2 separate regions of the Homo sapiens genome follow, and region 1 is linked to region 2. The links come from fine-mapping of genetic effects on gene expression. Tissue or cell type: aorta. Region 2 holds a variant in brackets; the other region holds the start of a gene. All regions are shown on one strand. Distances are between the middles of the regions.

Region 1 (2,500 bases), 62 kb before region 2:
CGGACCAGTCGTACACGTAGGACAGGCGCAGCTGCACCTCGCGCTTGCACAGGCGGCCCTCGCGCGCCAGCGTCGCGTGCTTCTCCAGCATGTCCTCCAGGCTCTGCTTGTGCGTCACCAGGTACTGGTTGCTGCAGCCGCGGGACCGGTATTCGGTGTCGAAGCGCGGGTCGTGCTCCCGCTGGACGTCCACCGGCGCCAGCCAGGCGCCCAGAGACACGTCCTCGCTGTGCCAGGCGCGCAGGTAGTCGCGGCTGAGGCGCAGGTAGTGCACCAGGTCGGCCGAGAGCACGTAGCCGCCGCCCAGCGCGTAGGGCAGGTAGTAGTCGCAGAGTTGCCAGGCGGCCTCGCGCCAGCGCCCCCCCGGCTTGACGCGGCCGCGGCCCGAGAAGAAGCCCCAGTAGAGGCGGCGGCGGCGCGCGGGCTCGCGGGCGCGCAGCTCGGCCAGCAGCGCGTCCAGCCGCGCGAAGGAGTCGTCGTCCGCCTTGAGCACGAACTCGAAGGCCACGTGCTCGTCCAGCCAGGCCAGCATGGCCAGCACCTTGGCCGTGAGGTTTTCGTAGGCGTCGCGCAGCGCGGGCAGCAGCAGCAGGTCCCCGTGCCGCGCCTGCTCCCGCTCCAGGGCGCGCCGCTCCTCGGCGCCCAGGCCGGCCGTGCCCACGGCAAAGCGCGCCCACACGTCGCCCGGGGCCCCGCGCCGCGCAAGCCACGTGCTGCGGATCACGCTGCGGCGCTCGGCGGCGCGGGGCGCGCTGGCCACCAGCACTGCCAGGAAGGCGGCGGCGCGCGCGGGCGCGGGGGGAGGCGGGCTGCGGCCCGACATCGCCCTGGGGTCCCCGGGCTCGGCCGCGCAGCGCGCCAGGTAGAGCAGCGCCGCCCCGCACAGCGCCAGCGTGCCCAGGCCTAGCGCCGCCCGCCGCCGCCACGCCCGCCGCAGCAGCTTCATGGCGCCCGCGCCGGGCCGGCGGCCCAGGCCGGACTCGCGAGTGCGCAGGCGCCGCCGGCTCGGGGCGGTGCGCGTGCGCACGGCGCTCCTGGGAGCGCGCCGGGGCCTTCCGCAGACGCCGAGCCCCGGGGCGCTCGGAGGCCGGCGGCCAATCGGCGGCCGTCACGTGGCCTCGGGCACCCTTGTCATTGGTCAACCTCGGAGCGGCCCCGCGACCGCTTCCGCCCGGAGGAGAGATGGTGGCGCCGGCGTCCCCTCCGTGAGGTCGCGCCCGTTCGCACCGCCCCCGCCCGCAAGAAAGATGGCAGTGGCCTGATCCGGGCCCGTTGGCGGCGTCACTGACGCTTCGCTCCGGTCCTCGGATCCCGAGCGCGGGGAGGCAGACCGGTGAGTGAGGGGCCCGGGACGGCCGCTGCAGGCCGCGGGGCCAAGTGTACGCCGGCCGGACGGCGAGGGCGGGTCTGGAGGCCGCCGCCGCCTCCCGCCTTGGGCTGGGGCATCGTCCGTCCGCTCGGCCTTGAGCCCTGGCGAGACTCCGCCGCCACCGGGGCTCCCGGGGTTCCCGGGGGCAGGGACAGGCCGACGACGCTGGCCTCCCCGGCCGCCGGCACGTCTGGTCTCCTACTGGCCAAAACCTACGAATGCCACCGGGAAACGGAGGCCCAAGGGGTCTGGTTGGACTCGCGTTTATCGGCGAGGCGACCTTGGACAAGCTGCCCCGCTTCCCTGCGCCTGCGCTTCCGCTTCTGAACCGCGTGGACCCTCATCCCCAGTTAGTAGGATTTGGAGATGTGAAGTCGGCTGTGTGGAGCCCTTGATGTCTGGCTCAGAGGCGGTGTTATGAACCCTGTTGAGCTTTTAGAATCTAACCGTGTGTGTTGTTAACTGCCAGAAATAGCCTCGTTCCACCAGAGCTGAAGCCCAGGGATGGCAAAGAAATAGCGTCTCTGCCTAAGCTGTTTCCCACGTCCGTTTTGCAAGGGTGTGTTGATTCCTTGCTGGGAACTGAGCTGCTAGGGGATGGCGAAGTCGAAACCCCATTCCGGTGGGACCGGCCCGCTCCGCTGTGCTGCGAACCTGGCACACCGTGATGAATAGATACTCTGAAGCCAGGAGAGGAAGCGCCACTTGATGGACTCCTGATATTTATAGTTACTTTTGGGTTACTTTTTATTCCCCCTTTTTCGAGACAGGGTCTTATCTTTTTGTTTTTGTTTTTTAAAGAGACGCAGTCTCACTGTGTTGCCCAGGCTGGTCTCACGATCCTCCTGCCTCAAGTAAACCGTGTAACTCATCAAGATATGTAGAATCAAGAACTAGCTTTATTTTCTCTAGGAACAAAGTACAGTCTCTTTGCACACAGCGTGTGTTTTACGACTGTAGTTAGTGGAGTCAGCACCAGGAGGAGGTGTCTTGGTTCTTATCCAGGACTCTCCCCTGGTCAGGCGATCTGGGACGACAGGAATAGAATTATGCCACCACTAGGGAAGGGAAAAGCCCTCAGCCATGTTCAGAAAATCAGGCCGGGTGCATGGCTCACGCCTATAGTCCCAG
Region 2 (2,750 bases):
TGAGATGGTCCCGCTGGACCCTGGTGCGGAGCAGACCCAGGAGGCCCCTCTGCCCTCTGGGAGCCTCAGGTCAGGTGGCAGGTGGGGCTGGGGCAGGTCCTGGGCTGAGTGGCTGGGCCTTCGGGGAGCAGGGCCCACTTGGTGGGGGTGACGGGTGGGGGGTTCCTTCGGTGGCTGCTGTGGCTCTCCAGGCTGGGAGCAGCAGATCCGGGTTCGGAAGCTCTGACTCTGGGAAGGGGCCTACGTGTGTCCCCTCCTCCCTGAGGCTGAGGCAGGTGGCCTGACAGGAGCTGATGGGGATGGGAAGGACTCGCCCAGCTCCTCTCCAGAACTGGCCCTTCCGGGAACAGAGCAAGGCAGGGTCCTTGCCCCTGGGCTGGGAGGGAGAGCCCCGTGTTCATCTTTGTGGCGCACCGGCCTTTGGAGGATGTGATCTGGACACACACCTCGGAGGACGGGTTTCCTTGTGTGGGGGGAGAGGGGGTGCAGCGGGCAGGTCCCCCAACCCCTGCAGCCTCCCCTCCCTGGGGCCCCACACAGGCCTGAGGACTCCCCACCGCCCTCAGAAGCCCCCAGGCTCCCCAGCCAGGCACTACCTCGTCCCTCACAGCTTTCCTGAGTTCAAACTTGAAAACTCTGCCCCTTAATCCCAAAATCTGGGTGGTGTGGCAGCCACGGATACCTGTAGCCCCAGCAAGGTTCCTGCGCAGGGCAGGTGGGAGCAGGACCTTGGGCCGTGGGTGTGCCCGGCCCGCGTGTCCAGGTGGGTGCAGCCCCCAGGGCCAGGCAGAATGGGGGAGGCCTGGCACCTCTCGGGCAGTGGGTGGGGTCTCCAGGCAGGCCAGGCCCTGCCACTGGAAGGGAGGTGGCCCCTTTGCCACCAACCTGTGGCTGTCACCGGGGCAGGTGTGGCTGGACCAGGAAGCCCTCCTGGCTGGCGCCTGGCTGCCTCCATCCTGTCCGCAGCCCTCGCTCCTGCTGGCCGGCACCATACGCTCTTGGTCACCTGCTCAGAGAGGCCCCCCAGGGCCACCGGCTGCCCCCTCGGTAGCTCCCTTCAGCACAGGCTGAGGTGTCTCCACTCAGGGACTCCCCCTTCCCCCAGAACCTTGACCTGAGCTGACCACAGGAGAGTCAGGGAAGATTCCTGAGCAAAAGAAGGAGGGAGGGAGGGACGGAGAGAGGAGGAGGAGGGAGGAGGGGGAAGGAGGGATGGAGGAGAGGAAGGAGGAGGGGGAGGGAAAGAGGAGGGAAGGGAGGGAGGGAGCCTCTCCCAGGAACCTTGGGGGCCTCCGGGGCCGGATGCAGTGTCTGGGGTTCTGTCCTCAGCTGGGCCCTTTGCACGGCGGGGGTCTGTGCACGTGTGGTTAAAATAAGGAGCTGGTCCAAGCAT[G/A]GGTGCGTGAACTGCAGACTTTATTACTATACAAAGACTTTTTTCTGTTTTGTTCCCGGTGCTTATGGAGAGGAGGAGGAGGAGGAGAAACCGCACAGGGAGGCTCTGGGTACGGCCCCGCCAGCCCCAGCAGGGTCCTTCCTGTCACACCCCGTGCAACGCAGCAGGCGCTGTGGAGAGTGAGCCCCACTGCAGTGTGGGGCGCAACTTCATCCGAGGGGTGCTTGGAGGGACTGGCCAGACGGGCACAGCGGTGAGGAGGTGCTGGGATGGGGAAGGTCCCCGAGCTCCGGGCGGTGTTGGATGAGCTCAGGCTCACAGGTGTGGCCCTGCCTGGCCCGAGCTCTCCAGGTGTGTCCAAACCTTGTGTTATATGCACCTTGCAGTCCAGGGCTCACCCGTGCGGTCTGGTGAGGTGGACGCCACATTCTGGGGGTGGCACTCCAAGTTCTTCCCCACACACGTCGCTCAGGCGGCAGCAGCATGGGGGTGGTTTCAGCTGGCCCTGCGGGGGACTGCCCCATCTCCCCAGGGAGGAAAGAGGGTCTGGAGATAGCCCCGGGTGGGGGAGGTCAACCTGCAGATCCCGGCTTGGGGACAGCTCCAGATGACACCTCGTGAGCCGCCTGGGGTGGAGGGGCCCCCAGTGCAGGGCTGCGTGGCCCCAAGCACCTGCCTTCCCTATCCCATGGTCTTGCAGCTGGGCACCGGCCCCGCCCGCCTCAGCCCCAGAGATGGGCCCTGGAGGGAGAGTGTGGTCTGCATCCCACGGCTGGCCCCTGGAGGAGGAGGGCCAGGGCTGGCCCCGGGAACCTCCCAGAGGTCTCTGCGTCCTGCTGCCTGGCCGCTGAGACGCTGTGACATTGTCCCTGCTGGGCATTTGTGCTCCTCCGTGCCCTGGGCTCAGGCACTTTGGGGGGCCCAGCTGCTTCTGTCTCAGCCTCCCCAGGTGGCGAGGGGGCTGGGGCTGTGGGGTGGGGCTCCGGGTATCTGTGACTGTGACCCCAGGGGCCAGGCTGATAGCACGGGGTCCACAGCATCTGCCCGGGGACTACAGCTCGAGGGCCCCAGGAGGCCGGGTGGGCACAGGCCATGGCGAGGGTGGGGCACAAGAGCCCCAGACCCCGGCGGCTTTGCACTGATGGGCTGCGGATGGGCACAGGCCATAGTGAGGGGGGCATGAGAGCCCCAGACCGGGCGGCTTTGCACTGATGAGCTGCAGGGCAGGCAGCTCTCTCCTCTAACGGTGATCAGGCAGCGGATGGACGGTTTTACCAGACAGTATTAGACAGAGGGCCAGGTCTAACCATGTCTGGTAAGACGCCCATCGGCCGGCGGTGGTGTGGGTGGCCTCCGG

What was found. PIP is the estimated chance that this variant, and not a neighbour inherited with it, causes the effect.
Region 1: it holds the start of SDF4, and the variant in region 2 is fine-mapped to the expression of SDF4 in aorta (GTEx, PIP 0.97).

What each region holds. Positions count from the first base shown.
Region 1 is chr1:1,230,725-1,233,224 of GRCh38, reverse strand. It overlaps SDF4 (stromal cell derived factor 4), which reads left to right and starts at 1,224. Exons shown (of 7, transcript NM_016176.6): 1 at 1,224-1,333. It overlaps B3GALT6 (beta-1,3-galactosyltransferase 6), which reads right to left and starts at 988. Exons shown (of 1, transcript NM_080605.4): 1 at 1-988. The coding sequence starts at 946. RefSeq lists enhancers at 1-588, 589-1,270 and a silencer at 887-1,746.
Region 2 is chr1:1,168,985-1,171,734 of GRCh38, reverse strand. It overlaps MIR200BHG (MIR200B, MIR200A and MIR429 host gene), which reads right to left. Exons shown (of 2, transcript XR_007065348.1): 2 at 1,397-2,750. MIR429 (microRNA 429) reads right to left here and starts at 2,730; the gene lies at 2,648-2,730. RefSeq lists an enhancer at 362-929. The variant G/A (reference allele first, on the strand shown) is at 1,394.